Linked DNA regions of Homo sapiens. The protein of the gene in region 1 purifies or fractionates together with the protein of each later gene. This does not show direct contact. Each region holds a gene or a part of one and is shown on either strand. Other genes may lie near its edges.

Region 1 (4,881 bases):
AAAGCACATTTGTTTACTCTATGAAAACTGAAATAAGAAGACAGAGAGTCCTCTTGCTCAACAGACCTCAGCTGGAAATACGTGTGTTGGACGGCTGAAATTTTTTGCCTTTCTGCTCATGTCCATGAATGACTGCAAAAGTACCACAAGTACTGGTTTGGGAATTACAAATAAATTTCAGTAAGCAGGCAAATTCACAGGTATGGAATCTGTGAATAAGGAGGATCCACTGTATAAGGAAACTGGGGCTCAGTGAGGTGAAGTCACACAATTAGAGGCAGGCAGGAAGCAAATCCATGATGATCAAGATCCAAAACCCAGAGCACTTAACTCTCATTATTCTGCACTCATTCACTCAGGAAATGTTCACTGACAACTTCTTATGTGCCAAGCACCAGGGCCATAGATGAATGTAATCTGGTCCCAATTCTTCCTGAGAATGAAACAGAAAGGTTCCAGGTGCGGTGGCTCACGCCTGTAATCCCAGCACTTTGGGAGCCCGAGGTGGGTGGATGACTTGAGGTCAGGAGCTCGAGAGCAGCCTGGTCAACATGGTGAAACCCTGTCTCTACTAAAAATACAAAAATTAGCTGGGTGTGGTGGTGTGCACCTATAATACCAGCTACTCAGGAGGCTGAGGCAGGAGAATCGCTTGAAACTGGGAGGCGGAGGTTGCAGTGAGCCAAGATTGCGCCACTGCATTCCAGCCTGGGCAACAGAGTGAGATTCTGTCAAAAAAAAAAAAAATAGACCTTCTCCTTCTCCTTCCACTCCTCAGTCCCTTCTTCCTTTCCCCCTTACTCTGCTCCTCAAATGCCCCCTTCCCAACTTCATCCTCCTTTCTGTTTGTGGAGGACTCTGTGGCACCCTTAGTACCACCCTCACAAACCTCATCTTTCCCCCATCCCCTCCTCCAGCCTCTACTCTTGCCATCCTCAGTCTTAAAATATGACCTTGCTTCCACCAACTTCTAGCAACTGTAACTATAAACCGACCTGCCCCTGCTCCTCCTCTTCCTCAGGTCAGACCAAGGCCTCTTCCCTTGCTCTTTATGGAAGCCAGCCTTGTCTGCCTCTTTAGAGATTCCATCAGTGTAGACAGTCTGCTTGGTGGTTAAGATGTAGACTCTGGTGCCAGACTAACTGGGATTGAATCCTGGCTCTGCCACTTACAGGCTTTGTGATCATGGCAAGTACCTGACCCTTTGGTGCTTCTATTTCCCCATATTTAAAAATGGAGATCAGAAAGTCTATCTCATGGGATGGTTGTGAAGAGGAAAAAAAGCCTTAATATATGCAAGACATTTAAAATAAGATCAGTATTATTAGTGTAGTCTGTAATACTATTAGCCCCTCTCTCTTCTGTCTCTTCAGCTGCCTCCTTTCACTATAAAAACAAAACAAACTTAGAAATCCACTTCCTCAGCTAGGCACAGTGGCTGATGCCTGTAATCCCATCACTTTGGGAGGCTGAGGCAGAGGATTACTTGAGCCCAGTTCAAGACCAGCCTGGATAGCATAGCAAGACCTCATCTGTTTAAAAAAAAAAAATTTGCTTGAGTGCCGGCAAATACCTGTGGTCCCAGCTACTTGGGAGGCTGAGGATCATTTGAGCTCAGGAGGTCAAGGCTGCAGTGAGCTGTGATGTTGCCACTACACTCCAACCTGGGCAACAGAGCAAGACCCTGTCTCAGAAAAAAAAAAAAAAAAATCAACTTCCTCCATCTCATAGCCCCACTGCCTGTGACTCTCTCGACTTTGACCTTCTTGCTCTGTGCTCATTCCCTACTGTCCCTTCCTTCTAGAGCAGGAAGAAAATCTCATTTGAAAAGCCCAGAACTATTCTGTTACACAGAAGACCAGGAAAGAGAAGTTTAAAACCAAGTCTAAGAAAAGTCCCCAGGGTCACACAGTTCATAAGCGACAGAGCCAGGATTCCAGCACCTGGTCTGAATGACCCAGAAGCCAGGACTTTTCCCCCGCACCTCTACATCAGGCGTGCTGGAGCAGGAAGCGGTCAGGCAGCCCCACTAGGAGTAACAAAGATGGGATCACAGAGCCTTGGAACTGGGGGTGGCTCCTTCATGAGACCATGGTGCCACCTACTGGCAGAAAGAGAAGGGGTGTACACAGAGCGCTAAGAGAAGACTGGGAAGGAGAAAAAGAAAAAGATGGGGAAGGAGAGGAGATGGAAAGATGAAGGGAGGGGAAAAATGGGGAATGTGAGGTTTCATGGAGGGAAGAGGATTAGGAACTATTTGCTACTCGCAGGAGAGAGCGGAAGCTGCCAAATCTCAGTCATTTCCTTGAAAGTGAGTGAGAGACAGAGAAAGAGAAAGAGGGAGTGTGTGTGTGTGTGTGTGTGTGTTTGTGTGTGTGTGTGAGTGAAAGAGATACTTAAGTACGTACATCAGATATTATTCTGTTGTTTGTTAGTTGCTGGGAGTCAGTCCACAAAGAATTTAGTGTGCGTGTGTGCGCACGGACGCACACACACACATGCATTCAGGAACACTAGCACATGTTTATGTATGTAACTGGGTGCTTGCTGTATGAACATATGGATGGCAGCATGAGCAGATGCATGTGCATGTGAGCATGAGCACAGAGGGTATGTATGAGTGTATCAGCAGATGCAGGGTAAGAAGCACATTACACTGTTGTGGTGGAGGGCACGCAGACATTCTGGGAAGCCACTTGCCCCACCCCTGGGCTGCTTCTTCTTGAGATCAGGAGGGGCGTTGCCCAGGGCTGGTGTTGCCAGGTGGAGGCCTGCTGAGGCAGTGGTTGTGGGGATCGGTCTCCAGGCAGCAGGGGGCAGCAGGGTCAAGGAGAGGCTAACTGGCCACGGGTGGGGCCAGCAGGCGGGCAGAAGGAGGCTTTAAAGCGCCTACCCTGCCTGCAGGTGAGCAGTGGTGTGTGAGAGCCAGGCGTCCCTCTGCCTGCCCACTCAGTGGCAACACCCGGGAGCTGTTTTGTCCTTTGTGGAGCCTCAGCAGTTCCCTCTTTCAGAACTCACTGCCAAGAGCCCTGAACAGGTAATGGGATAGGGATACAGATTATCCTGTGAAGTGATATCGATCTGGAAACAGGTCTGGGGAGCTGGAGGGGCTCTAGTGAGGGTTCTGGGAGGGTCTGGGGTTAGTGTGGGGGGGAGCACAGGATATACAGGTGCTAGGAAAGAGCATGGAGTGACCTGCAGTGTGGGAGTCAGGCTGGGTGTGCAGGTGGAGGAACCTGGGGTGTTAGGATCTCAGAGTGTCAGGTGCTGGTGGAGGTCCTGGGTAGTATAGAGGGGTAAGGGTGTTAGGATAGAAACTGGGAAAAGGTCTGTGTCAGACCAGGTACAGGAGAAGCTTGGTGAGATATGGGTTCAGGATCCTGGGGTCTGGCATATCTGGCTGAATATCTGAAGCCAGGGCCAGCCCAGGTGGGCCCAGGGGAAACAAGGCCCTAACTTGCACATGTCTACCTCCCAGGAGCCACCATGCAGTGCTTCAGCTTCATTAAGACCATGATGATCCTCTTCAATTTGCTCATCTTTGTAAGTACGGACATTGTGGACTCTTTGGGGCTCCCTATAGGAGCAGGTCACAAGCTGAGTAGAGACTAAGCTGGGGAATGGGAGACTGCTATGCCCAGGCTTCGTCCTGCATGTGTCCCCTTATGAGTGGGATGCAAAGGTCTCCCCAAATGCTGCTGATTCCTAGTCCCAGCAGCAGCCAGGCTGCCATACAGGTGCGTGTGTGAAAAAGGGGATGGAGAAGCTAGGGGCACCCCCTCTCTCCTACAAAGCTTTAGCCTAGGCTTCAGGCAGGGCAGAGTAAGCTACCAGGAATGATTCTCCACCCTTTATAGGCACTGGGGGCCCAGAAAATAGAAGGGCTCCACCCAAGTTTACCTACCACAGAAGGAAATTCAGTACAGAGGAAATTCTTCTGTATGACGGGGAGCTGAAAGGAGGGAGGGCCTACCTCTCATCAGAGCAACAGTCCTTATTCATTCGACAAACATTCATTGTCTAGGATACCATGATGGGTGCTGGGGTGGCAGGTAAGCAAAGCCTTTCTCTGCCCTGAAGGATCTCAGCTCCGATAAGCCAGATAGGCAGATAATAACAACACAGTGTGTTTGGGCTTAGGACGGAGGTTATGGGAGCCTGAACTCAGCCTGGTTGGAGAATACTTCCTGGAGGAAATAGCTGAAGCTGGGAAATTGCACTTGGTGGGGGAGTTATAAAGCATGCATAAAGGGCCAGAAGTAGTGAAACTTGATATCGTTCAGAAAACCAGAAACAGATTGCATAGGGCATGTTTGAGAAGCTGAGCCATGAGGCGTAAATCCTGGAGATGGTGGTGGAGATAGGGAGAAACGGACAAAGTGGACAAAGGACAAAGCTCTAGGATGATGGCTGAGGGGTAGAAGAAGGGGCAAGGGAGACAGAGGTCTTGGAGATGACGCCCATATCTCTGGCATGAGCAACCCAGATGGCAGGGGGTGGGGCCTGGTTTGTGGGAAGGGGTGTCCCACTAGCAGATGTGTACCCAGTGGAGGTGCAGCTCAGATTGGAGCTGGCCATGGGTATTTGAAAATCATGTGCGCACAGGTAGCCACTGAAGCCATGGGAGTGGATGAGAACACTTGGAAAGTGAACTCTGGGAAACCCAATTTATTAGGGATAAGCAAAAAAAAAAAAAGCCACTGTGAAGGAGATGGAGAAGGAGCAGTGGGAGGGGGAGAGGAAAACAAGGAGAGTAGTACACTAACCACATTAGAGTAGGTTAGTGTAAGTGAAAGTGAGGAAGTGGGCCAGGTGCAGTAGCTCACAACTGTAATCCCAGCACTCTGGGAAGCTGAGGCGGGCAGATTAGTTGAGCTCAGG
Region 2 (4,881 bases), about 49 Mb from region 1:
TGGGCGAATTGTTTGACAAATGGCAACTGACTTCTTTAGAATTTTGCAGTTAACAGTAGTATGTACTCAAATTGGGGGGAAAAAAACCCTACATGTTTCTTGTAAAGGCGTCTGACAGTCCTGAGAATTATTGATGGTAAGGAATAAAAAATGTACAGATGACTCAGTGAAGAAACTGAGGCTTCTCTTATGAAACAAACATTGATAAACGTAACTACTAAATGTTTATGCCTCTGTAAACCAAATTTCTTTTCTAGATAAAAATATGTATTACTACCTGCAAATTTTCTTCTGGCTGTTTTAGTAGTATTTTTTTTACAGAACTAAATATAGAGTTTGTATGATTAGTAATATTTCCTGTCCTACAGCTTTTTTTTTTTTTTTTTTTTTTTGTAAAGTATTCTGCATTGTAAAAGAAGAGAGAAAAAAAGTATTTCTGAGTTTTGGTTCAGATACAAAAGGCTTTATTTCCTGTATGGAAACAGTGATGTCCCCAGTGAATCCTTTCAGCATAAAGGAAGCAGTTATATTAAATTGGCTTCATGACAATTTGCACTCCACAAGCCTCCAGAACCTTGAGCATAAACCAGTATCATTTTTTGTACTTCAGTCTTGCTTTTTGAGTAGTTGGCCTTAATACAGAGTATCTTTTAAAATCTCTTGTTTAGGCCGGCATGACGGCTCACACCTGTAATCCCAGCACCTTGGGAGGCTAAGGCGGGTGGATCACTGGAGGTCAGGAGTTTGACACCAGCCTGACCAACATGGTGAAACCTTGTCTCTACTAAAAATACAAAAATTAGTCAGGCGTGGTGGCACATGCCTGTAATCCCAGCTACTCGGGAGGCTGAGGCAGGAGAATCGCTTGAACCCGGGAGGCAGAGGCTGCAGTGAGCCGAGATTGCACCATTGCACTCCATCCAGCCTGGGTGACAAGAGTGAAACTTCGTCTCAAAAAAAAAAAAAAAAAACAAAACTCAATGATGTAGGGACTGTTATTATTCCCATTTTACAGATGACTTGTCCAAGATCACATGAGTAGTAAGTAGCAAAGCCAGAATTCAAGTTCAGGTAAACCTGACTTCTTAGTGGGGCCAGTTTCACGGGTGTGTGGCCTGTGCAGTCACACAGAGTTCTGCACTGAAGAGGGCCTCCACTTGGTTTAATGTTCTGCTGTGACTCTCTTGAACTTCTGAATATTTTTTTAAACAATGAACTTATATTTTAGACCCTCTGAATTCTTTCGCTGGTCCTGCTTGAGACTGTGTTTCTAGTGGTGCCATGTCTACTGGAATAGAAGTACAATAGTTAGTGCAGTGCCTGGCCCAGGAGCTCCTCAAAAACAGGAATTCCATTTCCTTCCCTCTAACCTCTGCTTCTTTAACAAAGCAGCCAAAAAAAAAAAAAACAAAACAAAATAAAAAACAGAAAAGAGAAGATTCTCTCCTGTAGTATATATAGGTTTTTTCCTCTTAAATCTTTTGCTTTATAAGTATGATATAAATCTAATAAATAGTGATTAGTGAAGTGATTGAATTTTTGTGAAAAGAGACATGATTATCCACGATCATGTAAGATTAAAATCCTGAGGCTGATCCAGCCTTTTTTCTTTTTTTTTTTTTTAAAAAAAAAAAGCAAAAAAAACAAAAAAACTGTCTTCTCTGAATCATGTAACAGGCGCATCTGTCAGCCGGACATCTTCCTAGGTTTTTGGCTGGAGAAATGTGTAGCCGAAGGTGTCTCAGAATGGTGAGAACACTTTGCTGTCTGGATTTAGTGGGCCTGGGGCAGCCAAATGATAGTTCATTGTGCTTTGATTTTAATCCTCAAATCTCAGTCACTGGTTGCTTCCCTGGAGTATCAGAGCGTATTAGTATCATACAACCAGGGGCTGAGGTGAAATAAGCCTTGACTGTTCTAGAAAGAAAGTGATTTTTTCAGGGACAACAGCATCTGCATTTTATTGCTGTTTAAGGCTTTCTCTGCTCTGTACTTTGTTCCCTGAGTGGCACTAGGTAAATGAATGGTAAGGGAAAGTGAACTGCGTTTAGTGAATGCCTCTCTGTGCTGTGGGGCAGCTTCCCTGGGCCCCCACAGGTAATCCTGCTGCAGAGGCTTCTGTCAGGTCAGAGCTTAACAAAGATCAGACCAGAGAGAATTGTAGAAAAGATGCTATAATTTTTTCCAGAAACATATGTCCCAGATGTTTTGCAGAGCCTTAACTTAAGACAGTGGTTAGCCTGGAATGTCAGAGAAAGAATGTGTATGTGTTATATCACCAAAAGTTTAGAAATGTTATATCTTTCATAGGTTCAGGCTGCTGTGTACTCATTCAGAGCCAGGCTGAGACATGTGTTATTGCATCTTCCTGATCATTCAGATTACTCTGGTAAACAAGTGCATGCTCTGCTGTGTGTTACTGTTATGGCTAATTTGAGTCCTCAAGGTCCCATTAGCAGAGGGGGCTGGTGGCACAATTTCCCTGCTGTGCATTTCTGTGACATTCAGAAAGATAGTGCGCCAGTCCCAACTCAAACTGAAGAAGATGAGTAGCTAGCTTGTCCCTTCCAGTTTCTCTTAGAACACTCTGAATGCAACTTTTACTGTAGGAGACTGTTCATGAAAAAATTAATTGAATCAGTCTTCAAATGAGAGGCAGGGAAACCACACATCCTGCCCACACCTACTTCCCTGGAAGATTTCTATCTACAGTCCAGCTATCCTAAAAGGTCTCAGTAGCTTGCCAGGTCAGAATGTCTAACTGTTTCAAAAAGGATGCCCAAAAATCATGACAGGAAACTTTAGCCTGGAACGAAGAGTGCTATGAAACCGTGTCAACAAGAGGAGTGGTGACAATTGTGAGTTGAATAGCAAGATGTCCTTGCTAGGAAGGAGATGACCCAAGCTTCCCCTTATAAAAGCAACTTGGAACACATCATTCTACCTTTCAAAGATACATGGTAAGTTAAAATTGAGAAACGTACCCCTTTACTATACAGTTCCTTGGGTTGAATGAGTGCTTTTTTTTTTTTCTGAAAAGCCCCATCCCCCAAAAGGCATTTGATAGCAATGTATTAAGCACCTTTTACCAACAATAAGAACATCATTGTAAGTGTTAAAGAAAATTGTCCTTCTCCCTACAGGTCAGCGTTTGAGCCTCACGGGGTTTCTTCCCATGACTTCAGCCCTGGCGCACAATGAGCAGACACCCAAATCTTGTCCGCCTTCAACATTCTTTTGTTAGGGCCCATCCCTCTAGCACTCTAAAAACAAATCATCTACAACTGTGTTCCTGCTGCCCACTCATTTTAAACATGAATTTGACATAGCTCCTCCTTTTCGCACTGGAGTAGTTAACTAATGCTAGCCCACTAGCTTCTATCATGTCCCTCAAGCAACAAACTTTGGGATCATTTTTGCTTTTTCACTCTTTCTTTACCCAATTATAATTGGTTGCCTTTTTTGTTTCATTATCCCCAGAATTTTCTCGTCTTCCTCTTCTCTCCTTGAAATTACTTTTACTGTTCCTCTCCTTTGTCATCACCTATTGATTCTGCCTTTGACTTAGTTCATATCTACCCTTTCCTTTTCAGTCCCATAGTTACAACCTAAGCCAGCTCTTCAACAAAAATTTCTTGCTTGATGAGCAAGTTTTATTGAGGAACTGAGGAAACACCTGTGGAAGGAACAAATGAATGATTTTGTTAATTACTTATGTTTGTCTTCAGAGACTTCCCCTCATGCTAGTTCTGTATACTTGTTTCACTTTTTTCTTTCTTTTTTTTTTTTTTTTTTTTTTTTCGAGACAGTCTCGCTCCATCGCCCAGGCTGGAGTGCAGTGGTGCAATCTCACCTTACTGGCTCACTGTAACCTCTGCCTCCTGGCTTCAAGCGATTCTTGTGCCTCAGCCTCCCGAGTAGCTGGGATTACAGGCATGCACCACCACACCTGGCTAATTTTTGTATTTTTAGTAGAGACAGGGTTTTACCATGTTGGCCAGGCTGATCTTGAACTCCCAACCTCAGGTGATCCACCCATCTTGGCCTCCCAAAGTGCTGGAATTACAGGTGTAAGCCACACGTCCGGCCCTTGTTCCACTTTTTATAATATTTACACCACAGAGAGGTTAAGTAATTTATTAAAGATTATAGAACTAGAAAGTGACAAAGCTCAGATTTGAACCAAGGCATTCTAGCTCCAGCCAGGCTTACCTTAATAGCTACGTTAGGTGTTTTTTTTTTTTTTTAAAGAAAAAAGAAAAAATGTCCTCAAAAGGAAATAAATGGGGTAACAGGGTACTATGACGGAGTAGAAGGTAGTTGGTGTTCTAGATAGGGAAATCAGGAAAGGCCTTTCTAAGAAAGTGGTATTTTACCTGAGTTCCAAAGGATAATGCCTTAAATATTTGTCCTCCTTCTACTTCACTCCCAACTTAGATTTTGCCCCACCCACAAAGTCTTTGTCTTCATTTAGCTTGAGCAAATTCTCTAAATAACTCTGTGACATAGCCACCCATACCAAAGGTTAGTGCTGAGTTATATACCATCGAATTGCAGTCCTTGTTCTTAGAAACACCTGTGGAAGGAATAATGAATGCTATTGCTGATTATTTATGTTTGTCTTCAGGGACTGTACCTCATTCTAGTTTTGTATCCTTGTTCCACTTTTGATAGTATTTACACCACAGCTCTGTACAAAACATAGGCACTAATTAAATACATAAATTATTTGGCCAGGCATGGTGGCTCACGCCTGTAATCCCAGCACTTTGGGAGGCCAAGGTGGGTGTATCACAAGGTCAGGAGTTCAAGACCAGCCTGGCCAAGATGGTGAAACCCCATCTCTACTAAAAATACAAAAAATTTGCCGGCGTGGTGGCG

Evidence for each region. The genes of interacting proteins can lie anywhere in the genome.
Region 2: the proteins of TSPAN1 (region 1) and ALG14 purify together in Homo sapiens (affinity purification with mass spectrometry; one large-scale study listed by BioGRID and IntAct). This does not show direct contact.

Annotation. Positions count from the first base shown.
Region 1 is NC_000001.11:46,177,622-46,182,502, forward strand, and holds part of TSPAN1 (tetraspanin-1), read left to right. Parts: intron 1-37; exon of another isoform or gene 38-200; intron 201-1,804; exon of another isoform or gene 1,805-2,311; intron 2,312-2,904; 5' UTR 2,905-3,037; intron 3,038-3,478; 5' UTR 3,479-3,486; coding exon 3,487-3,543; intron 3,544-4,881. UniProt on the Homo sapiens protein: Structural component of specialized membrane microdomains known as tetraspanin-enriched microdomains (TERMs), which act as platforms for receptor clustering and signaling.
Region 2 is NC_000001.11:94,978,211-94,983,091, reverse strand, and holds part of ALG14 (UDP-N-acetylglucosamine transferase subunit ALG14), read left to right. Parts: coding exon 1-16; 3' UTR 17-4,881. UniProt on the Homo sapiens protein: Part of the UDP-N-acetylglucosamine transferase complex that operates in the biosynthetic pathway of dolichol-linked oligosaccharides, the glycan precursors employed in protein asparagine (N)-glycosylation.